2 separate regions of the Homo sapiens genome follow, and region 2 is linked to region 1. The links come from fine-mapping of genetic effects on gene expression. A gene starts in region 1. The other region holds a variant in brackets. All regions are shown on one strand. Distances are from middle to middle. Region 1 holds the start of C9orf72 (C9orf72-SMCR8 complex subunit). Region 2 has its middle 26 kb from the start of C9orf72.

What was found. PIP is the estimated chance that this variant, and not a neighbour inherited with it, causes the effect.
Region 2: its variant is fine-mapped to the expression of C9orf72 in blood mononuclear cells (TOPMed, PIP above 0.99). The same link has a PIP of 0.9 or more in monocytes after interferon gamma.

Annotation. Positions count from the first base shown.
Region 1 is chr9:27,568,028-27,580,530 of GRCh38, reverse strand. C9orf72 (C9orf72-SMCR8 complex subunit) reads left to right here and starts at 7,050. Exons shown (of 11, transcript NM_018325.5): 1 at 7,050-7,100. RefSeq lists enhancers at 6,441-6,968, 7,567-7,656 and a silencer at 6,977-7,056.
Region 2 is chr9:27,593,633-27,606,135 of GRCh38, reverse strand. No RefSeq gene overlaps it. Among named protein-coding and RNA genes, the nearest start is that of C9orf72, 26 kb to the right of the region's middle. The variant T/A (reference allele first, on the strand shown) is at 6,527.

The DNA of each region.
Region 1 (12,503 bases):
AATCCTTAGCTTGCTTGATCACACATGACCCTCACAATGATCCTAGGAGAAATTATTCTGCATGCCATTTTGTAGCTGGGGAAACTGAGGCACAGAGAAATACAGTACTGCCCAAAATGTCATAACTAATCAAAGGCAAAGACAATACTCACACCAGCTCTGATTCCAGAGCCCACTCTCTTAACCATATGCTTTTCTGCTTCCCTAGTTGTAGAGTCTTTTTGTATGACTGCATTAATTATATGTGAAGAGTTCAAAAATTTCTATATAAGGTCTTTTAAGGGTGTCATTCTGGTTGAAAATGGAGGACTAGGCTTCTCACTTGAAGACATATTTCTGTAGAAAAACCTATTTTCATTTAGATGCTACAGTTACTTGATGTGGTTAATAAACCAGTTAACAGAGTATGAAAAGGATAAGGGTTAAAGCCCTCCCAAGCCATCTTTCATGCTGCTAATATGAATCACATTACTAGATACTTAAATATCATTTTCTCTTTGGTTCCCAGAAGACTGCATATATGCTAGAATATTTGTCCTCCTCTTTTACCCTTTCAGGCAATAAAGTATTTTGGACCACTGTACTATGTTATAATTATTGTTTCTCTCCTGATTTTTTTGCTCCAATCTAATGAAAGACATACAAGCTACTATACTGCTACACAATGACTAAATACCTGTTGGATTAGGTGGGGGGAAGATACACAGTCACTGGCTAGAAAGCATCATGCATACAGAGCCATTTTCACCATATATTTTATTTCTCATGATCATGTAGAATTTAGGCTTTGGTGTTGATTATTTCTCTCTTAGGAAACATAGTTGTTTCAGGGTTGATATCACAAAAAAACAGAAAAACCTATTCGAGAAAAGGAAAATTATTTGTCTGTAGGCCAAATTTTGAAGTAGGAAAACCTGCTTTTGGAGTTGTATTCCCCTCCCAGGCACTTAATCCAAGTTCCAGTCTTATTCTAAACTGGGGATGCTAGTATTAACCACCATAGGAGTTATCTGAGATGAGTTATCATCAACTTGGTACCAGGTTGTTGTCCTCTGGACTCAGTGAGCTCTAGAATTGCATGAAACTGGCCTAATTTATCAAAGTATGTAGCCTTGGGTAAATAATTCAAGCTCTCAGAGGTCCAGTTATCTCCTCTGTAAAACATATCTACATCCTAGGGATGACAATATCTACATCCTAGAGATGTCAGGAGGATTAAGTGTAATTTTTTTTAATTGTATGTATTTAAAATGGGCAACATAATGTTTTGATATACACGTGTATAGTGATTACTACAGTCAAGCAAATTAACATATCCATCATTTCATAGCTACCTTTTATGTATGTGATAAGATTATCTAAAATCTATTCTCTTACCAAATTTCCAGTATACAATATTGATATGGTTTGATCCATATCCCCATCCAAATCTCATGTTCAGTTGCAATCCCCAACGTTGGAGATGGAGCCTGGTTGGAGGTGATTGGATCACAGGGGTGGCTTCTAATGGTTCAGCACCATCCTTTCTTGGTACTGTATAGTGAGTAAGTTCTCACGAGATCTGGTTGTTTAAAAGTGTGTAACACCTCCCCCACTTTCCCTCTCTCTGTTCCTCCTGCTCCCGCTATGTGAAGTGCCAGCTCCCTCTTTGCCTTCCGCCATGATTGTAAGTTCTCTGAGGCATCCCCAGAAGCTGATGCTGCCATGCTTCCTATACAGCCTGCAGAACCATGAGTCAATTAAACCTCTTTTCTTTGTAAATTACCCAGTCTCAAGTATTTCTTTATAGCAATGCAAGAATGGACTAATACAGAAAATTGTTACTGAGAAGAAGGGCATTGCTATAAAGATACCTGAAAATGTAGAAGTGACTTTGGAACCGGCTAACAGGCAGAAGTTGAAACATTTTAGAGGGCTCAGAAGAAGACAGAAAGATGAGAGAAAGTTTGGAACTCGCTAGGAACTTGTTGAGTGGTTGTAACCAAAATACTGATAGTGATATAGACAGTGAAGTCCAGGCTGAGGAGGTCTCAGATGGAAATGAGAAATTTATTGGGAATGAGTAAAGGTCAGGTTTGCTATGCTTTAGCAAAGAGCTTAGCTGCATTGTTCCTCTGTTCTAGGGATCTGTGAAATCTTAGACTTAAGAATGATGATTTAGGGTATCTGGCAGAAGAAATTTCTAAGCAGCAGAGTGTTCAAGAAGTAACCTAGCTGCTTCTAATAGCCTATGCTCATAGGCATGAGCACAGAAATGACCTGAAATTGGAACTTACACTTAAAAGGGAAGCAGAGCATAAAAGTTTGTAAATTTTGCAGCCTGGCCATGTGGTAGTAAAGAAAAGCTCGTTCTCAGGAGAGGAAGTCAAGCAGGCTGCATAAATTTGCATAACTAAAAGGAAGGCAAGGGCTGATAACCAAAACAATGGGGAGAAAGACTCATAGGACTAACAGGCATTTTATTTTATTTTATTTTTATTTTATTATTATTATACTTTAAGTTTTAGGGTACATGTGCACAATGTGCAGGTTAGTTGCATATGTATACATGTGCCATGCTGGTGTGCTGCACCCATTAACTCGTCATTTAGCATTAGGTATATCTCCTAATGCTATCCCTCCCCCCTCCCCCACCCCACAACAGTCCCCAGAGTGTGATGTTCCCCTTCCTGTGTCCATGTGTTCTCATTGTTCAATTCCCACCTATGAGTGAGAACATGTGGTGTTTGGTTTTTTGACCTTGCAATAGTTTACTGAGAATGACGATTTCCAATTTCATCCATGTCCCTACAAAGGACATGAACTCATCATTTTTTATGGCTGCATAGTATTCCATGGTGTATATGTGCCACATTTTCTTAATCCAGTCTATCACTGTTGGACATTTGGGTTGGTTCCAAGTCTTTGCTATTGTGAATAGTGCCACAATAAACATAGTGTGCATGTGTCTTTATAGCAGCAGGATTTATAGTCCTTTGGGTATATACCCAGTGATGGGATGGCTGGGTCAAATGGTATTTCTAGTTCTAGATCCCTGAGGAATCGCCACACTGACTTCCACAATGGTTGAACTAGTTTACAGTCCCACCAACAGTGTAAAAGTGTTCCTAATAGGCATTTTAGGCTTTCATGGTGGTCCCTCTCATCACAGGCCCCGAGGCCTAGGAGGACTGAATCATTTCCTGGGCCAGGCCTAGGGCCCCTGCTCCCTCTTACAGCCTTGGGACTCTGCTCCCTGAATCCCAGCTGCTCAAAGGGGCCCAGGTACTGTTACAGTAGGTAGCTAATCAGGCATGAGTGGGGTAAGAGAGAAGTCCCCACCACCCACCAGGAATGTCAGGCAACCATCAGATGATGGTCAGGCAGTTGTCATACTGCCTCTCTAAAATAGTAATTGGTTGCAGCCAGCACCAGGGAGAGGCAACTTCTCAATAGATAGAAACACCTGAAATTGGTAACTGGGCGCTTCCAATAAGATCTCAGGAACTGAGAGAGTGGGCTTAACATGCACATTAAGAGGCAAAATGGTGAAGTATGACCTTTGGGGGCATTCCACCGGAAAAGGGAAGAAAGCCTCAGGTAAGCATGTATACAACTCCAGTAAACACACTGCACACGCTCACCTTCCAAGTGCAAGCAGGGCACCATGCATGCGGCAAGCTCACCCTTAGGGAAGGACCAAGGGAAAGGGGCACAAGATGTCAGAAGTAGGCCAGTGTATAAGATCCTAGGTTCAAGGTCAAACAGGGCACTTGACCTCCAAGGTGCCCACTTGGGCCTCTTCCAAATGTACTTTCCTTTCATTCCTGTTCTAAAGCTTTTTAATAAACTTTTACTCCTGCTCTGAAACTTGTCGCAGTCTCTTTTTCTGCCTTATGCCTCTTGGTCAAATTCTTTCTTCTGAGGAGGCAAGAATTGAGGTTGCTGCAGACCCACATGGATTTGCAGCTGGTAACTCAGATAACTTTCACCAGTAAGAATACAGTTCAGGCTGCTGCTTCACAGGGTGCCAGGCATAAGCCTTGGTGGCTTCCATAAGCTGTGAAGCCGGCGGGCGCACATAATGCAAGAGTTGAGGCTTAAGAAGCTCTGCCTAGATTTTAGAGGATGTATGAAAAAGCCTGGATGTCCAGACAGAAGCCTGTTACTGGGGTGGAATCCTCATGGAGAACATCTACTAGGGAAGCAAGGAGAAGAAATGTGGGGTTGCAGCCCCCACAGAGAGTCCCCTGGGGCACTGCCTAGCAGAGCTATGACAAGACAGCCACCGTCCTCCAGACCCCAGAATGGTAGATCCACCAACAACTTGCACCCTGCAGCCTGGAAAAGCTGCAAGCACTCAATGCTAGCCCATGAGAGCAGCTGTGGGAGATGAACCCTGGAAAACCACAGGGGTGGTTCTGCCCAAGGTTTTGGGAGCCCACTCATTGCATCAGTGTTCCCTGGGTGTGAGTCAAAGGAGATTATTTCAGAGCTTTAACATTTAATGACTGCCCGGCTGGCTTTCAGACTTGCAATGGGGCCCTATAGCCTCTTTCTTTTGGCAGATTTCTCCCTTTCGGAATGGCAGTATCTGCCCAATGCCTATACCCCCATTGTATCTTTGAAGCAATTACCTTGTTTTTGATTTTACAGGTTCATAGGTAGAAGGGACTAGCTTCGTCTCAGGTGAGACTTGGGACTTTGGACTTTTGAATGAATGCTGGATCGAGTTAAGACTTTGGGGAACTGTTGGTAAGGCACGACAGTATTTTGCAATATGAGAAGGACATTAGATTTGGGAGGGGCCAGAGTTGGAATAACATGGTTTGGATCTCTGTCCCCACCCAAATCTCATGTTCAACTGTAATCCCCAGTGTTGGAGGTTGGGCCTGGTGGGAGGTGAGTGGATTATGGGGTGGCTTCTAATGGTTTTGTACAGTCCCCTCTTGGTACTATATAGTGAGTTCTGACAAGATCTAGTTGTTTAAACGTATGTAGCACCTCCCATTTCTCTCTTCCCCCAGTTCCTGCCATGTGAAGTCTGGGGTCTCCCTATGCCTTCCATCATGATTTTAAGTTCCCTATGGCCTGCCCAGAAGCTGATCCAGCCATGCTTCTTGTACAGCCTGCAGAACTGTGAGCCATTAAACTTTTCTTTATAAATTACCCAGTTTCAGTTATTTCTTTATAGCAGTGTAAGAATGGACTAACACAATTATTAACGCTAGTCCTCATGTTGTACATTAAATCTCTAGATGTATTAGACGTAACTGCAACTTTGTACCCTACCCTACAATTTTCTTTCCCCCCAAGCCCCCCAACCAAGGGTCTACTCTGTTTCTATAAATTCAGTTGTTTTTTAATTCCACGTATAAGTGAAGTACAACTCAGTGTAGAAACTTGGTAAATGCTAGCTACTTGTTATAAGCTGTCAGTCAAAATAAAAATACAGAGATGAATCTCTAAATTAAGTGATTTATTTGGGAAGAAAGAATTGCAATTAGGGCATACATGTAGATCAGATGGTCTTCGGTATATCCACACAACAAAGAAAAGGGGGAGGTTTTGTTAAAAAAGAGAAATGTTACATAGTGCTCTTTGAGAAAATTCATTGGCACTATTAAGGATCTGAGGAGCTGGTGAGTTTCAACTGGTGAGTGATGGTGGTAGATAAAATTAGAGCTGCAGCAGGTCATTTTAGCAACTATTAGATAAAACTGGTCTCAGGTCACAACGGGCAGTTGCAGCAGCTGGACTTGGAGAGAATTACACTGTGGGAGCAGTGTCATTTGTCCTAAGTGCTTTTCTACCCCCTACCCCCACTATTTTAGTTGGGTATAAAAAGAATGACCCAATTTGTATGATCAACTTTCACAAAGCATAGAACAGTAGGAAAAGGGTCTGTTTCTGCAGAAGGTGTAGACGTTGAGAGCCATTTTGTGTATTTATTCCTCCCTTTCTTCCTCGGTGAATGATTAAAACGTTCTGTGTGATTTTTAGTGATGAAAAAGATTAAATGCTACTCACTGTAGTAAGTGCCATCTCACACTTGCAGATCAAAAGGCACACAGTTTAAAAAACCTTTGTTTTTTTACACATCTGAGTGGTGTAAATGCTACTCATCTGTAGTAAGTGGAATCTATACACCTGCAGACCAAAAGACGCAAGGTTTCAAAAATCTTTGTGTTTTTTACACATCAAACAGAATGGTACGTTTTTCAAAAGTTAAAAAAAAACAACTCATCCACATATTGCAACTAGCAAAAATGACATTCCCCAGTGTGAAAATCATGCTTGAGAGAATTCTTACATGTAAAGGCAAAATTGCGATGACTTTGCAGGGGACCGTGGGATTCCCGCCCGCAGTGCCGGAGCTGTCCCCTACCAGGGTTTGCAGTGGAGTTTTGAATGCACTTAACAGTGTCTTACGGTAAAAACAAAATTTCATCCACCAATTATGTGTTGAGCGCCCACTGCCTACCAAGCACAAACAAAACCATTCAAAACCACGAAATCGTCTTCACTTTCTCCAGATCCAGCAGCCTCCCCTATTAAGGTTCGCACACGCTATTGCGCCAACGCTCCTCCAGAGCGGGTCTTAAGATAAAAGAACAGGACAAGTTGCCCCGCCCCATTTCGCTAGCCTCGTGAGAAAACGTCATCGCACATAGAAAACAGACAGACGTAACCTACGGTGTCCCGCTAGGAAAGAGAGGTGCGTCAAACAGCGACAAGTTCCGCCCACGTAAAAGATGACGCTTGGTGTGTCAGCCGTCCCTGCTGCCCGGTTGCTTCTCTTTTGGGGGCGGGGTCTAGCAAGAGCAGGTGTGGGTTTAGGAGGTGTGTGTTTTTGTTTTTCCCACCCTCTCTCCCCACTACTTGCTCTCACAGTACTCGCTGAGGGTGAACAAGAAAAGACCTGATAAAGATTAACCAGAAGAAAACAAGGAGGGAAACAACCGCAGCCTGTAGCAAGCTCTGGAACTCAGGAGTCGCGCGCTAGGGGCCGGGGCCGGGGCCGGGGCGTGGTCGGGGCGGGCCCGGGGGCGGGCCCGGGGCGGGGCTGCGGTTGCGGTGCCTGCGCCCGCGGCGGCGGAGGCGCAGGCGGTGGCGAGTGGGTGAGTGAGGAGGCGGCATCCTGGCGGGTGGCTGTTTGGGGTTCGGCTGCCGGGAAGAGGCGCGGGTAGAAGCGGGGGCTCTCCTCAGAGCTCGACGCATTTTTACTTTCCCTCTCATTTCTCTGACCGAAGCTGGGTGTCGGGCTTTCGCCTCTAGCGACTGGTGGAATTGCCTGCATCCGGGCCCCGGGCTTCCCGGCGGCGGCGGCGGCGGCGGCGGCGCAGGGACAAGGGATGGGGATCTGGCCTCTTCCTTGCTTTCCCGCCCTCAGTACCCGAGCTGTCTCCTTCCCGGGGACCCGCTGGGAGCGCTGCCGCTGCGGGCTCGAGAAAAGGGAGCCTCGGGTACTGAGAGGCCTCGCCTGGGGGAAGGCCGGAGGGTGGGCGGCGCGCGGCTTCTGCGGACCAAGTCGGGGTTCGCTAGGAACCCGAGACGGTCCCTGCCGGCGAGGAGATCATGCGGGATGAGATGGGGGTGTGGAGACGCCTGCACAATTTCAGCCCAAGCTTCTAGAGAGTGGTGATGACTTGCATATGAGGGCAGCAATGCAAGTCGGTGTGCTCCCCATTCTGTGGGACATGACCTGGTTGCTTCACAGCTCCGAGATGACACAGACTTGCTTAAAGGAAGTGACTATTGTGACTTGGGCATCACTTGACTGATGGTAATCAGTTGTCTAAAGAAGTGCACAGATTACATGTCCGTGTGCTCATTGGGTCTATCTGGCCGCGTTGAACACCACCAGGCTTTGTATTCAGAAACAGGAGGGAGGTCCTGCACTTTCCCAGGAGGGGTGGCCCTTTCAGATGCAATCGAGATTGTTAGGCTCTGGGAGAGTAGTTGCCTGGTTGTGGCAGTTGGTAAATTTCTATTCAAACAGTTGCCATGCACCAGTTGTTCACAACAAGGGTACGTAATCTGTCTGGCATTACTTCTACTTTTGTACAAAGGATCAAAAAAAAAAAAGATACTGTTAAGATATGATTTTTCTCAGACTTTGGGAAACTTTTAACATAATCTGTGAATATCACAGAAACAAGACTATCATATAGGGGATATTAATAACCTGGAGTCAGAATACTTGAAATACGGTGTCATTTGACACGGGCATTGTTGTCACCACCTCTGCCAAGGCCTGCCACTTTAGGAAAACCCTGAATCAGTTGGAAACTGCTACATGCTGATAGTACATCTGAAACAAGAACGAGAGTAATTACCACATTCCAGATTGTTCACTAAGCCAGCATTTACCTGCTCCAGGAAAAAATTACAAGCACCTTATGAAGTTGATAAAATATTTTGTTTGGCTATGTTGGCACTCCACAATTTGCTTTCAGAGAAACAAAGTAAACCAAGGAGGACTTCTGTTTTTCAAGTCTGCCCTCGGGTTCTATTCTACGTTAATTAGATAGTTCCCAGGAGGACTAGGTTAGCCTACCTATTGTCTGAGAAACTTGGAACTGTGAGAAATGGCCAGATAGTGATATGAACTTCACCTTCCAGTCTTCCCTGATGTTGAAGATTGAGAAAGTGTTGTGAACTTTCTGGTACTGTAAACAGTTCACTGTCCTTGAAGTGGTCCTGGGCAGCTCCTGTTGTGGAAAGTGGACGGTTTAGGATCCTGCTTCTCTTTGGGCTGGGAGAAAATAAACAGCATGGTTACAAGTATTGAGAGCCAGGTTGGAGAAGGTGGCTTACACCTGTAATGCCAGAGCTTTGGGAGGCGGAGGCAAGAGGATCACTTGAAGCCAGGAGTTCAAGCTCAACCTGGGCAACGTAGACCCTGTCTCTACAAAAAATTAAAAACTTAGCCGGGCGTGGTGATGTGCACCTGTAGTCCTAGCTACTTGGGAGGCTGAGGCAGGAGGGTCATTTGAGCCCAAGAGTTTGAAGTTACCGAGAGCTATGATCCTGCCAGTGCATTCCAGCCTGGATGACAAAACGAGACCCTGTCTCTAAAAAACAAGAAGTGAGGGCTTTATGATTGTAGAATTTTCACTACAATAGCAGTGGACCAACCACCTTTCTAAATACCAATCAGGGAAGAGATGGTTGATTTTTTAACAGACGTTTAAAGAAAAAGCAAAACCTCAAACTTAGCACTCTACTAACAGTTTTAGCAGATGTTAATTAATGTAATCATGTCTGCATGTATGGGATTATTTCCAGAAAGTGTATTGGGAAACCTCTCATGAACCCTGTGAGCAAGCCACCGTCTCACTCAATTTGAATCTTGGCTTCCCTCAAAAGACTGGCTAATGTTTGGTAACTCTCTGGAGTAGACAGCACTACATGTACGTAAGATAGGTACATAAACAACTATTGGTTTTGAGCTGATTTTTTTCAGCTGCATTTGCATGTATGGATTTTTCTCACCAAAGACGATGACTTCAAGTATTAGTAAAATAATTGTACAGCTCTCCTGATTATACTTCTCTGTGACATTTCATTTCCCAGGCTATTTCTTTTGGTAGGATTTAAAACTAAGCAATTCAGTATGATCTTTGTCCTTCATTTTCTTTCTTATTCTTTTTGTTTGTTTGTTTGTTTGTTTTTTTCTTGAGGCAGAGTCTCTCTCTGTCGCCCAGGCTGGAGTGCAGTGGCGCCATCTCAGCTCATTGCAACCTCTGCCACCTCCGGGTTCAAGAGATTCTCCTGCCTCAGCCTCCCGAGTAGCTGGGATTACAGGTGTCCACCACCACACCCGGCTAATTTTTTGTATTTTTAGTAGAGGTGGGGTTTCACCATGTTGGCCAGGCTGGTCTTGAGCTCCTGACCTCAGGTGATCCACCTGCCTCGGCCTACCAAAGAGCTGGGATAACAGGTGTGACCCACCATGCCCGGCCCATTTTTTTTTTCTTATTCTGTTAGGAGTGAGAGTGTAACTAGCAGTATAATAGTTCAATTTTCACAACGTGGTAAAAGTTTCCCTATAATTCAATCAGATTTTGCTCCAGGGTTCAGTTCTGTTTTAGGAAATACTTTTATTTTCAGTTTAATGATGAAATATTAGAGTTGTAATATTGCCTTTATGATTATCCACCTTTTTAACCTAAAAGAATGAAAGAAAAATATGTTTGCAATATAATTTTATGGTTGTATGTTAACTTAATTCATTATGTTGGCCTCCAGTTTGCTGTTGTTAGTTATGACAGCAGTAGTGTCATTACCATTTCAATTCAGATTACATTCCTATATTTGATCATTGTAAACTGACTGCTTACATTGTATTAAAAACAGTGGATATTTTAAAGAAGCTGTACGGCTTATATCTAGTGCTGTCTCTTAAGACTATTAAATTGATACAACATATTTAAAAGTAAATATTACCTAAATGAATTTTTGAAATTACAAATACACGTGTTAAAACTGTCGTTGTGTTCAACCATTTCTGTACATACTTAGAGTTAACTGTTTTGCCAGGCTCTGTATGCCTACTCATAATATGATAAAAGCACTCATCTAATGCTCTGTAAATAGAAGTCAGTGCTTTCCATCAGACTGAACTCTCTTGACAAGATGTGGATGAAATTCTTTAAGTAAAATTGTTTACTTTGTCATACATTTACAGATCAAATGTTAGCTCCCAAAGCAATCATATGGCAAAGATAGGTATATCATAGTTTGCCTATTAGCTGCTTTGTATTGCTATTATTATAAATAGACTTCACAGTTTTAGACTTGCTTAGGTGAAATTGCAATTCTTTTTACTTTCAGTCTTAGATAACAAGTCTTCAATTATAGTACAATCACACATTGCTTAGGAATGCATCATTAGGCGATTTTGTCATTATGCAAACATCATAGAGTGTACTTACACAAACCTAGATAGTATAGCCTTTATGTACCTAGGCCGTATGGTATAGTCTGTTGCTCCTAGGCCACAAACCTGTACAACTGTTACTGTACTGAATACTATAGACAGTTGTAACACAGTGGTAAATATTTATCTAAATATATGCAAACAGAGAAAAGGTACAGTAAAAGTATGGTATAAAAGATAATGGTATACCTGTGTAGGCCACTTACCACGAATGGAGCTTGCAGGACTAGAAGTTGCTCTGGGTGAGTCAGTGAGTGAGTGGTGAATTAATGTGAAGGCCTAGAACACTGTACACCACTGTAGACTATAAACACAGTACGCTGAAGCTACACCAAATTTATCTTAACAGTTTTTCTTCAATAAAAAATTATAACTTTTTAACTTTGTAAACTTTTTAATTTTTTAACTTTTAAAATACTTAGCTTGAAACACAAATACATTGTATAGCTATACAAAAATATTTTTTCTTTGTATCCTTATTCTAGAAGCTTTTTTCTATTTTCTATTTTAAATTTTTTTTTTTACTTGTTAGTCGTTTTTGTTAAAAACTAAAACACACACACTTTCACCTAGGCATAGACAGGATTAGGATCATCAGTATCACTCCCTTCCACCTCACTGCCTTCCACCTCCACATCTTGTCCCACTGGAAGGTTTTTAGGGGCAATAACACACATGTAGCTGTCACCTATGATAACAGTGCTTTCTGTTGAATACCTCCTGAAGGACTTGCCTGAGGCTGTTTTACATTTAACTTAAAAAAAAAAAAAGTAGAAGGAGTGCACTCTAAAATAACAATAAAAGGCATAGTATAGTGAATACATAAACCAGCAATGTAGTAGTTTATTATCAAGTGTTGTACACTGTAATAATTGTATGTGCTATACTTTAAATAACTTGCAAAATAGTACTAAGACCTTATGATGGTTACAGTGTCACTAAGGCAATAGCATATTTTCAGGTCCATTGTAATCTAATGGGACTACCATCATATATGCAGTCTACCATTGACTGAAACGTTACATGGCACATAACTGTATTTGCAAGAATGATTTGTTTTACATTAATATCACATAGGATGTACCTTTTTAGAGTGGTATGTTTATGTGGATTAAGATGTACAAGTTGAGCAAGGGGACCAAGAGCCCTGGGTTCTGTCTTGGATGTGAGCGTTTATGTTCTTCTCCTCATGTCTGTTTTCTCATTAAATTCAAAGGCTTGAACGGGCCCTATTTAGCCCTTCTGTTTTCTACGTGTTCTAAATAACTAAAGCTTTTAAATTCTAGCCATTTAGTGTAGAACTCTCTTTGCAGTGATGAAATGCTGTATTGGTTTCTTGGCTAGCATATTAAATATTTTTATCTTTGTCTTGATACTTCAATGTCGTTTTAAACATCAGGATCGGGCTTCAGTATTCTCATAACCAGAGAGTTCACTGAGGATACAGGACTGTTTGCCCATTTTTTGTTATGGCTCCAGACTTGTGGTATTTCCATGTCTTTTTTTTTTTTTTTTTTTTTGACCTTTTAGCGGCTTTAAAGTATTTCTGTTGTTAGGTGTTGTATTACTTTTCTAAGAT
Region 2 (12,503 bases), 26 kb before region 1:
AGAATACTATTTTAGACAAGATTTAGTCAGATTTTAGAGAGTTAGAAACCTGTAACAATTCTCTAACAATACTGCTTCTCCTTTTGTGTATTAAGGAATTTTTGTCTATCAAAGATAGTACGAGGTAGACCAGAAGATAACTTGCCTTCAAAATGTCTGGAATGTAAAATGGCAACAGTAGTATTTGGGGACTTCGTAGGGGATGGCCAATATACACCCATTCTTAGAGGTACTGATGATATAATGTATAAGACAAAATCAAGTGGTCTCCATCACCATATAATGTTTAAAATGGCAAAGAGGGAGCAGAACAAACACCCTTTGCAAATCTCTTCATAGAATCTACCGTAATAAACTTGTACTTGCTTAAAGTGTGTCTCTTCAGTGGTCTTATTACCACTACTTTGGGGAAAATGAGGCTGCTTAAAAGATTAACAGACATTACATTTTACATATCTGTGGCAGAGAAAACACTATGTATTCACCAAACCACTTCTTTTCCTTCCCAGTCACTCGGGAAGAGGTCATTTCTTTGTCCCCTTTCATCTAATTGAGGTGCCGTGACTACTTCTAGACAGGCAATGTGAGCAGAAGGTATGCACGCCACGTATAGGCCTGGTCTTCAAAAATCCCTCAGATATGATCTTCTTCTCTCGTCTCTTTCATGGACAAACTACAGGCCATGTAATAAGGATGGTGGGGTTCCAAACTGAAAGAGCCTGGATTTCTGATTTACTGTTTTGAGAAGAGTTCACCAGGGAAACAGCCTGGAAATACGCACAGGAAAATATGCACAGGACCCTGTGTGAGCAAGATATAAAGATCTATTACATGGTGCCATTAAGGTGAGAGTATTGTGCTTATAGTATCCAGCATTAATTATCCTCACTACTACAACTTCTTTGTATCCATCATGTGGAAAAGTAGAGTATTTAATAAATGATTATTGAGTTTATTACCTTTTTTATATTCCAATCATTGCTAATTGTACGTTACCTCATTTCAAGGTAAAGGTGACCAAGGGCTAAAGCAGTGCTATCCAAACCAAGCCAGACATCAAAATCACACAAAACCTTTTGAAAATACAACTTTGAAGATGCCATTCACATAGATATTTATTCAGTGGGTTTTCAAATGGAACCCTGGAATCTACAGTCTTTAACAAGGCTTCCCAAGTTATTCTGATATACAGCAGGCAAATCTGAGAACCACTGGACAAGAAGAAAATAAAGGCTATATCTTTCGACAACAAAGACAATGCCTTAAACATAGAATGTATTCAATTAAAGCTTGTAGAAAGATAGGTTTGTGAACAGGCACAGGGACTAGCCTCGAGCAAATTAATAAGGGCAGCAATGTTTTTCACTGAAACCATTATTCCCCCTATTTTATTTCTTCTGGGGCTCTGTGTTTCCTTTCTCCTATCAAAATCCATTCTAAGGTTGGAGGTTGGGGGTATCTCTTGCCTACTCCATACAGCAAGGAATAAAATTAGTATTTCTCGAACTATCTGTGACAGCAGACCCATTGTAGGCCAGTACTTTTGTAAAATGCAATAAAAATTAACTTCTAGAGAATGAAATTTTAAAATCACAGACATTCAAAATACAAATTCCAATTTTTTTATTATTAACTGTAAGAAATTTAAAATTAAATCTCAATAAATAAAATTAAAGCAAACATAAGATAGAAAAAAATAAGCATTATGGATTGGCCCAGTCTGCAAACTGTATACACTTTGCCAAACATGGGCATAAATTACTAAGAAGCAAAATCTTCCATCTGTAAACATTTCCATTTCCATTGACAATATGTGTGAGGGAAAGGAGGGATGCTTCTGTTTTAGAATGCCAGGCGTCAGCTAACAAGTGACAAATACGTATTGAGACTGAGATCTCCCCAGCCTCTCAGTAGTCAGCAAGAACATGTTGAGGCCTCTGTTTTTGACTAAAAAATTGGCCAGTGCATGGGCAACATGCATAGGTCCTGAATGAAAAAAATAGCAGCAGCAGAAATTTAAAAGAATTTTCACAGCTAGGCCACAGTAAATTCTCAAGCCCTTCATCAGAAGCCACTGTGGGGCCTCATTTATGCCTTTGTTTTTATTAAATTGGATGTGATCTTAAGATTCTTCTGTCAAAATTCCACTAGCATGTGAAGGCACCAAAAGTTTAAAATGTAAAATTAACCCAAGTTAAGCTATTCCATTATTAAGCAATAGCAGATATATTTGTTATTATATGAGAAGAAAGTTAACAGGGAGCTAAGATTGATGTTACTGATAAGAAACAGAAACAAGACTTTAAAATTAAATAAATGAATTATTTATTTAATAAGAACCAATTGACAGATTCTCGATAAAGACTGTAAGATGTCTTAAAACATTAGGTGTATGGAGATAACATTTGTAACTTTGACAATTTATATGATGAGAAAAATCAAGGAATGTTATTGTTTATTGGCAGAGTTCTAGAATTACAATTCCATCATTCTGTTTTGGGGAAGTTTCCCTTGAAGTAAATGATAACAGGGCTTGAAATAGTACACCTCAGCATTTTGTTTATAAAACTGTGGAATAGGTAAGGTTTGTATTGTAACTGAACCCAGGTTCAGCTGCTTGCTGCTCTAAAGCTAGACATAAGAGAGGAAGGTTGGTGGGAGGAAAAGCGATTTTAATCGGAGAAGCAGCAAACCAAGAAGATGGTGAACAATAGTCACAGAACCATCTTAAATTTTAAAATTTACCATAGAGTGTTCAAAGGAAAACTTGGTATGGGAGGCATGCAGGAGGGGTGCAGGGGGCGGGGTCTGTGTGTCTTGTTCCAATGGCTATCTCAGATAGTCACCCATCTGGAGGTCTAGTTGGTATTATTTTGAATTCAGCCCAGTGGTGGTGGACTGTCAGTGACTCCTCGCTAAGCAGGAGGATTCTGCACTCAGGGCTCCATGCATGGTTTGTTTCAAGATTGGCCTCTGGAATTTCTCAAGCAAGAACATAATTAAATAAGCAGGCATTGCCAGAGGGGAGTGTCTGGAAAGGAAAGGAATGAAGAGATGAAAGGAAAGTGGGTGGTTAAACTATATTTTTAAAACTGAGGTTCCCAGTTATAGTATGTTTCGCACGCTCCCCCCATTTTAGCACCCCTGACAGAATTTAGTAATCTCCTCATCTTGTCCTCTACTTCAGGTCCCCTATCTGTCCTTGTACTCTCCAGGGTTTCCTTTTCTTCTTCACGACCTTCCTTCCCTGCAATTTTATAAGCTATTCCTATCCCAGTGATTTAGTTTCAGCTTATAAAACTGTGTCTTTGCCATTGTAATCAAATTGAAGGGCCTCTGCTTCATGGTTGGATTCTGTGACCAGGAGACTCTTACGAGGAGTTGGCCAGGTCTCTGTTAGGAAAGCAAAAAAGAACAATGGAGGCAATTATCCCATTGATTTCAGCTATAAATCCTATTTTGCCTGAATTGTCTGAACGATGAGTATTCTGTGAAAATGCTGCTCTCTAGTGCAATAGAACTGCAAATAATGCACATCTATTTCTTATAATCTCATCCAACATACCCACAGAGATTCAGATCTAACAAAACAGAGGTGATTTGGTTATTGAATCATAATATAAATATGGGGAAGAGGAGGGAAATTTCAAGCCTGAGGAAACTGTAGTAGGAGTAAGTATGCTGTGTTTAAGAGGTCACAGATAAAATTAATATTACCAATCCATCAATAGGCAATTACTAATAGCTTACTACACACACAGGAATAAAATGTGAAGACAGAGGAAGTGTAAAATGGAGCCGCCAACTCTACGGAGTTGTTTGCAATTTGGTCTGGTAGAAAGCTATGAAATAAGGAAGTACATGATTGAGAGCTAGAGAATGTGGCACAGGCTCTGAACCCGGACCGTTCAATGTAGTAAGCTCTAGCCACACTGGACACTTGCAATGTGGCTTGTCCAAACTGACATGTGCTTTAAGTATAAAATATAATCCAGATTTCTAAGACTTCAAAAAAAATGGAAATATCTCATTAATAATCTTAAGTTTATTACAGGTAGAAATGATAGATTAAATAAACTATATTGTCAAAATTCATTTGATCTGTTTCTACAGTATAACAAACTTACTTGTGTGGTTTGCATTTTATTTCTACTGGATAACATGGCTTTAAAAATGGTATTTTAGAGGAAGGAAAGCTTGGTAGAGAATGGACTAATCCGGATCCCTGGAAGAAATGGACCTTGAATGGGTCTTGATGACTTGGAGAGGCAGAGAGAGAAAAAGAAAAGTCAAACATAGGGAATTGGTTGATAAAATGAAGGTGAGGGGAGAAGGAACAGAGGGAGGAGAAGATCCAGTTTGAGGGATATTACAGCGAGCAGCCTGAGAAAGAAGGATAAGAAAGGAGAGAAAAAATGCAAGGGAAGTAACCCTTCAAAGCCAGTCAGAAGTTTCTGGGTTCCTCAGCAGCCAGAAAAGAAGCCGTTGAAAAGATCTGAGTAACGGAGATTCTGGACGAAAACTGAAGTTATGGAAGGGAAGTTTAGACATGGGTTATTAAACGCTTTAGCGCATTAGAAGTTTCTTATGTAATCACTAAATTCAGATCCTGAAATAATGCCACAAGAACTATACAGCTCAGCCACCCAATTCAATAAGAAGTTACAGCACAGTCTCACACATATCCAATTAACCTTGGCCTTTAGTCAACATCTGGGTTCTTTTTGTCATTTTCAAATACTATCACCCAGAGGTGCTATGATTTATATTGGGGAGGGGATTAAAAGAAAATAAGTAAGTTGGTGATAAGAAAAAGCTTTCAGATGATTCCATCTGAATTAACAGCCCTCTTTAGTTGTCTAGGAAAGAGGATGCTTTTTCTTGAAAGTGCTTTGAAATGATGATGTGCTTGTTAGTAAACATCAATTATTTTCAAATCGTAATGTTTGCAAGTTTGTCTTCCTGTAGCTCACCCTTTATGTAGGTCCAGAATATGATTGTCACAAATATCTGGGTGAGCAAGACTATGAAATGTGGTCATAAAGTAAGTGATTATTTCTAAACTCATCTTTGTCACTCGTAGTGCTTCACAAAGCACCTTTTCCTGGACTACAATTCATTTTAATTGATCCCATCAGCACTATATCTGTATCCTGAGTGACTTCACAATACCCTCTATTTCAAGAGAAACCAATCAGGTTATGGGTTTGTTAGTAATAAAAATTACCAAGGAGCAGTTTGTGGATGGTAAAAGCAATGCAAATTCTAAAGAGAAGTCATAAGAGCAATAATAAGCATCCTCCTCACTTCTTGGAAGTGAACAATTCCAAGCTCCCTGAAGCAACACTTAACCTATCATATTAAACAGTAATGGACAAATATTAGAAATGTTGATGTCAGCTTTCAGAATCTGTGGGCATCAAAACATCACTTAAGTTCTCCGAAGTATTCTCTGTCAAGTTTCCTTCTACAGTATTCTTTTCCTACTAGGACAGAGCCTTAAGCCCTAGAAGAATAATTTTGCTTGTGTGTTAATTATTTGTTTACTGGTTCATTCCAGAGTGTGAGCTGGAAAAAGGGGGAAGTGTCATAAATAGTTTTTTATGGCCCATGGTTTTTCAACTACGTCACTATTGGTAGCAGTTTCCACTGCAGGATCTATTTGCAAAGCCTAGGAAATTAGCATTAAGCAAGCTGCTAGGAAGACTTCAACAGTAACTAGGCCACAGGCCTCACACATTTTTCCTCCACCCCAGCCTCCTCTGGAGAGTACTTGCTAAACCTCTGTGACACATAATGAAGCAAAGAAAGTGATAGAACAACAGAATTACACGGGCAGATCCTTGTTTCTTCTTCTCTCTCTAAAGAATTCCTTGGACTGAAAAGCAGTTTATTTTGGAGGAGTGAGAAAGTGGTGACAGAATTAGAAGGGCCTGGGAGGGCTTCATTTTAGGAGACAGTTTTAGGCTGAAAAGAGATTTCATGAGTGTGATTTACCTGAGGTGACTTTTGGGGGCTCTTATAAAAAGGAAGTTCATGCTGAATGGGAGGTGGCTTCTGAGATGCAGATTCTGGTGAGCTAAGAGGGCTCGGTAAAGAGGAGGCAGGAGTTAAGTAGCGTGAACTATGCAGTAGCAGCCTTCTTCCCCCCTTGCTTGGGGCAGGTCATCACAACCCTTCTCAATAAAGGGGTCCAGGAACCACTAGGAATAAATGGGCATTTGCACTTCAGGTGAAACCCATTTGTCATAACTGCTTGGACTTTAAGCTTACAAATAAAAAGAACCACATATTTCCCTTTGCAGCTTGATTTAGTTAATGTCATTTTGAGAAAGAAAGAAGACATTGTTATCCCGTCCCTTTTTTTTTTTTTTTTTTTTTTTTATGAAGAGACTGGGACTCAGAGAAGTCAAGTGATTTTCCCAGAACCAGAAAACACAGAAGTAGCAGAGCTGAGATGACTACTCCGGTCTTCTGATTCCAAATTCCAAATTCATTCTTCTAAGCGATTTCCCAAAACGGGAAA[T/A]GGGTTTATCTTCTATTTATGGGAAGTGATAGTGGTATTCTATTTAGAGAACTTATATAAAATCTTACTTTAAAATAAATAATATTTCAAAAAGTAAGCTTAATTTAAAGAAAATAATCAAGAAAGTCTGGTATATTTTTACAAATATACCAAATGACCTTGCTCTAAAATACATCTACTTTCCAGCAAGCCAAAGTGAAACAATTTGAAATAAGTGGCATTTACTGACCACTCCCTAAAGTTCACACAAAAGAGGTAGTACTCTAACTTAAATATACAAGGTGAAGAAATAGCTTACTCAGCCTGTTGGGCTTCCTCTTCTACACTCTTGGGAAATGCCCTCCGTGTTAACCAAGAATTCTCAGGCCTTGGAGGGAGTTTTCCATTCTCAGTAAACTGAGATTGCAGTTGCGGAAATTAAGAGGTATCTGTCCAGCACTTCATTCCCTTAAGGTCAGGATCTGTGCTTTTAATAATGACAATTAGCTAACATATACAATTAAGCCATGCAAATGAAGTAAGAGAAAGCTAGAGGAGAAATTCAGGAGCCAGTTGCCTTTTCCAGACATCTTGTACAAATAGTGTTCAAAGGACTAATTCAAAAGATGGGATTCTTCGCTTGAACCCAGGAGGTGGAGTTTGCAGTGAGCGGAGATCGCTCCACTGCACTCCAGCCTGGGTGACAAAGTGAGACCCCATCCAAAAAAAAAAAAAAAAAAAAAAAAAAAAGATGGGATTCTTTTTTAAAAAATAAATTTTACTGCGTATTTTTAAGGTATACAACGTGATGTTATAAGATGGATATAGATAGTGAAAAGGTAACTGTAGTGAAGCAAATTAACATATTCATCATCTCACATAGTTATCTTTTATTTGTTTTGTTTTGATGGGATTTTTAAGATAGTAGAAAGGAATGGTAGACAATAAACATTTGAGGGAAAGTGGGGCTTTGTAGAACTCCTAAAATGACAGCACGCACAAATGTCCCCATTATGTCTAAAGGGTAACTCGTTCCTACTTCTAGGGACAGCTGAGGGACATCAATGTAAATTTCTAAATGACTTCCTGAACTTTTTATTTTTATTTTTTGTATTTTTAGAGGAAATTATAATAACATCAAGCCACCTCTGGACCATATCGCTGCTGATATCATCAGCAAATGGCACTATTCCTAAATCCTAAGATGCACTTTTCCCTTCACATTTCAACATTTGTGAAACTCGATTGTACCTACACCTGATTTTATATACAATGCAGCCTTTCCTTTTCTTTTGTCATTGCATCTTACGCCTGATTTCTCCTTGGAATTGAGTAAATATAATGCTTACATGTGTTAATAAGAATTGAGGTCACTCATAATTTTTGAAATATGCCACCAAATATAAGCCTTTCTACATATTGTTGACTTTGAAGTCATTTCTTTTTTTAACTACTAAACAATAACACTTTTTGTTGAGAAAAATTGCATATGAACAAGAGACCAAGCAGGTAGAGAGAAAAAAACTTTTAATAATCAAGAGAATGTTACTGTGTCCCAAAGGCTAAAGTCACCTTACTATCAAGAGAGAAGGACAGGAACAGAGAGAACCAGGTAAATTACGAATTGAAAATTCCATGGTTCATTTATCTTTATTTTTAATAATTCCATTTGTGTGATTGTGTTGACCACAAGGTCATAATGTTACTCTTCATACTGACTTCTCATGTAAATTATAAATAAGTTTTTATGCTAATGATTTATGGAGTAAGCTATTCATCTTTCCGACAGAGAGTTACCTACAAAGAAATAATTATTCTACCTCTGAGATGAAATATCATGAAAGGAGTGGTTTCCAGATATTTTGACTTTTAAAAGCTTAAAGAATATATGTAGTATAAAATTCTAAAGCAGGCAAAATTAATCCTTTTAGCAATCAAGATAGCGGCTACTTTTGGTGAGAAGGACAAGGTAGTGATAGAGAAGGGGCTCAGGGGTCTTTCCTGAAGACAGTGAGGTGGGCAATGGTATTTTCCTTGACCTGGATGGTGATTAAACAGATGTGTTTACTTTGTGATAATTGACTAGGCTGTGCACCTATGAACTGCATACTTTTCCATATATGTACTGTATTCTTATACTTAAAAAGAAGTTTAAAAATAAATGCAACAGATATAGGACTTCCTATATTACTCGTTGACCAAAAAAATGGATTCATTTTTCTTTCAGGTAAAACGTACTAGTGGTTTTAATATTATATTGACCAGGGAGTAAATGTTTACCTTAGGAACCTTAATCTTGATGTTCTCCAAAGTCATTATCTGTTCTTTCTGATTATCAGAATAGAGTATATCTCTATATAAATGAAAATTTCTGGTCATTCTCAAAAAATAACACTAAGCATGAAAATCAGAAATATTGATCTTGTTTTGTAATGATGTTTCTATTGATGTGAAGTAGTTTCTAGTAGAGTTGCTGTCCTAACACACAAATGAAATTGCACTGTTTGGAAGACACAACTGTGAATGACTTGCTTCAGTAAGGAATTTCCAACATGATGGTTTAGGGATAGAGGTGCTCGATTCCTCTGTCTCCGGTTACCCAGGTTATTGAGGACAGGGAGGTCAATAAGTAATGCCCTCCTCCCACCCATAGCACAAAACAGAGCGGGGTTCAGAGAATAGGTAAGGCTTTGGCCAGGGTGTTGAGGAGACTTACATCCCTGGGAACCAGTCAGAATGGGGGCGCTGAAAACAATGTTTTAAATTCTAGCACCCAGCAACATATGTGTGAAGATTAAATGTACTCGTGCTAAATTCACTTGCTCCATTACTGAATTTGGGTGGTGTCTGTTAAAGATGGGAACAAAGGCATTCAGGTCCTGGTATCTTCTACCACTCCCAGCATGAACAGACTCATGTCAGTGGGTAAGGGATGGTATTTCCCGAGAAGGCTTTGAACTCTTGTAGTGGGTCAAATAATGGCCCCCCACTTAAAAATGTTCATGTCCAAATCCCTGGAAGCTGTGAAAAGGGGTTTTTGCACATGTAATTAAGTCAAAGATATTGAAATTAGATCATCCTGGATTACATAGGTGGGCCCTACATTTAATGACAAGTATCCTCATAACAGAAGAGGAGAAGGTGATGTGAGATTTGGAGCAGCAGAGATTGGAGTGATGTGGCCACCAATCAAGGAAACCAAGGACTTCCAGCAGCCACCAGAAGCTGGAAGAGGCAAGGAAGGACTCTTCCCTAAAGCCTTTAAAGGAGCACAGCCCTACTAACACCTTGCTTTTGGGCTCTGGCCCGCAAAACTGTGAAAGGATACATTGCTGTTATTTGAAGCCACAGTTCGTAGTAAATTTATTACAGCAGCCCTAGAAACTGATACAACTCCTAAATACACCCTTAGCAACACTGCTCAACAAGAAGTAGGCAATTTCCTCCTGACTGAAAAATACTGATACTGTTATGGGATCCTTGGGGGTGTTGCTTTTCTGTCCAGAAACCTCTGTGGCGGTGGCACCTTTGCATGAGTTTTGCTCGGGTCCACTGGGCCCACTCATCCTGGCAGGCTGCGCTCAGCTGACACTACTGGCGTGGATCCCATGCCTCCAAAGAGACTGGAGCGAAGCGGTGAGGGATGTGTGAGGAAGTGAGCGTGGGGTCTGGCACACAGTCAGGCTCAATGGCTGCTACAGCGGGATGGGCAGCTTCAGGTGCTGGCACGGGTGCTGGCTCACTGCAAGGCTGTGGCTGCACCAAGCAGCGCAGCAACGGAACGCATTGGTGCCTGGAAACTTGGAGACTCCAGGAACCTCAGGGCTCCAAAAGGCAAATCACAGCCCTAGCTTCGGGAGCTCCCAGGTCTGGGCTGCCAAAGGGCTGCAGCTCTTCTCTCCTCTCTCTCTCTTCGCTCCTCTCCCTTTCTCTCTTCACTCCTCCCTCTTTCTCTCTTCACTCCTCCTGTCGCCTATGAACAGCGAATTCAACCTTCCAGTTTTCAGACTAGGAATGCTGGAGTTGTCCTTGATTACTCTGAATTGTTCACTCCGCATATGGGCACTGAGGATACGTTGATGAACTACACAGACAAAAAGGATAGAAATTCCTGTCAAGACTACATTCAATAGGGATGAAGCAGGCAATAATGAATAAACATACTAAGTTGAATATGACTATTTAAATATATATAACACATATGACTTGTATAATGTTAAATATTTTAAGTTTTTTAAATTCTTCCCTTCATAGATTTTACATTATAGTAGAAGAGGCATTTTTGTTGTTGTTCTTTTTGTTTTGGATTCAGAGGGTAAATGTGCGGGGTTGTTACATGGGTATATTGCATAATGCTGATGATGGTCCCATCACCCAGGTGGTAAACATAGTACGTAATAGGTGAATTTTTAGCCCGTGCTTCCCTCTCCCATCTAGTCGTCCTGAGTGTTTATCGTTGCTACGTTTATGTCAATGTGTATTCAATATTTAGCTCCCACTTATAATTGAGAATATGCAGTATTTCGTTTTTTGTTCTCGTGTTAATTTGTTTAGGATAATGGCCTACAAAGAACATGATTTCATTATTTTTATGGACATGTAGTATTTCATGGTGTATATGTACCACGGTTTCTTTATACAATCCCACTGTTGATGGGCACCTAGGTTGATTCTATTGCTGTTGTGAATAGGGCTGCAATGAACATACAAGTGCATGTATCTTTTTGGTAACAAAAATTTTATATTTGGATTACCCAGTAGAATTGCTGGGTTGAATAATAGTTTTGGTTTAAGTTCTCTGAGAAATCTCCAAACTGCTTTCCACAGTAGCTGAACTAATTTACATTTCCACTAGCAGTGTATAAGCGTTCTCTTTTCTCCACAATCTTTTCACCAGCATCTGTTATGTTTTGGCTTTTTAATAGCCTTTTGATGACTGTGAAATGGTATCTCACTGTGGTTTGGATTTCCATTTCTCTAATGATTAGTGAATGTTGAGCATTTTTTTCATATGTTTATTGGCCGTTTGTATGTCTTCTTTTGATAAGCGTCTGTTCATGTCCTTTACACATTTTCAATTAAAATATTTGTTTTTTGCTTGCTGATTTAAGTTCTTTGTATATTCTGGAAATTAGATCTTTGTCAGATGCATAGTTTGCAAATATTTTCTCCCATTCTGTAGCCTGTTTACTCTGTTGGTAATTTCTTTTGCTGTACAGAAACTCTTTAATTAGGTCCCACTTGCCTATTTTTAGTTTTGTTGCAATTATTCTCTGGAACTTAGCCATAAATTGTTTGCCAAAGCCAACGTGGAGAAGGATATTTTCTAGGTTTTCTTCTAGGATTTTATAGTTTAAGTTTTACATTTAAATCTTTAATCCATCTTGAGTTAATTTTTGTATATGTTGAGAAGCAGGAGTCTAATTTCATTCTTCTGCATAGGGCTAGCCATTATCTTGGCACCATTTATTGAATAGAGAGTCCTTTCCTTATTGCTTATTTCTGTCAATTTTGTTGAATATCAGATCGTCGTAGGTGTATGGGTCCATTTCTGGGTTTTCTATTCTGTTCTATTTGTCTCTGTGTCTGTTTTTGTACCAGAACCATGCTGCTTGGTTACTGTAGCCTTTTAGTATAGTTTGAAGTTGGGTAATGTGATGTCTCTGGCTTCGTTCTTTTTGCTTAGGATTGCTTTGGCTATTCAGGCTCCTTTTTGGTTCCATATGAATTTTAGAATATTTTTCTGATTCTGTGAAAAATGACTTGATATTTTGCTAGGGATAGCATTGGAGTGGTAACTTGCTTTGGACAGTGTGGCCATTTTAATGATATTGATTATTCCAATCCATGAGCATGGAGTATTTTTATATTTATTCAGTCATCTTGATTTCTTTCAGCAGTGTTTTGTAGTTCACCCTGTAGAACATTTCACTTCCATGGTTAGATGTATTCCTATTTTGTGGCTATTGTAAATGGCATTGTATTTTTTTTTATTTGG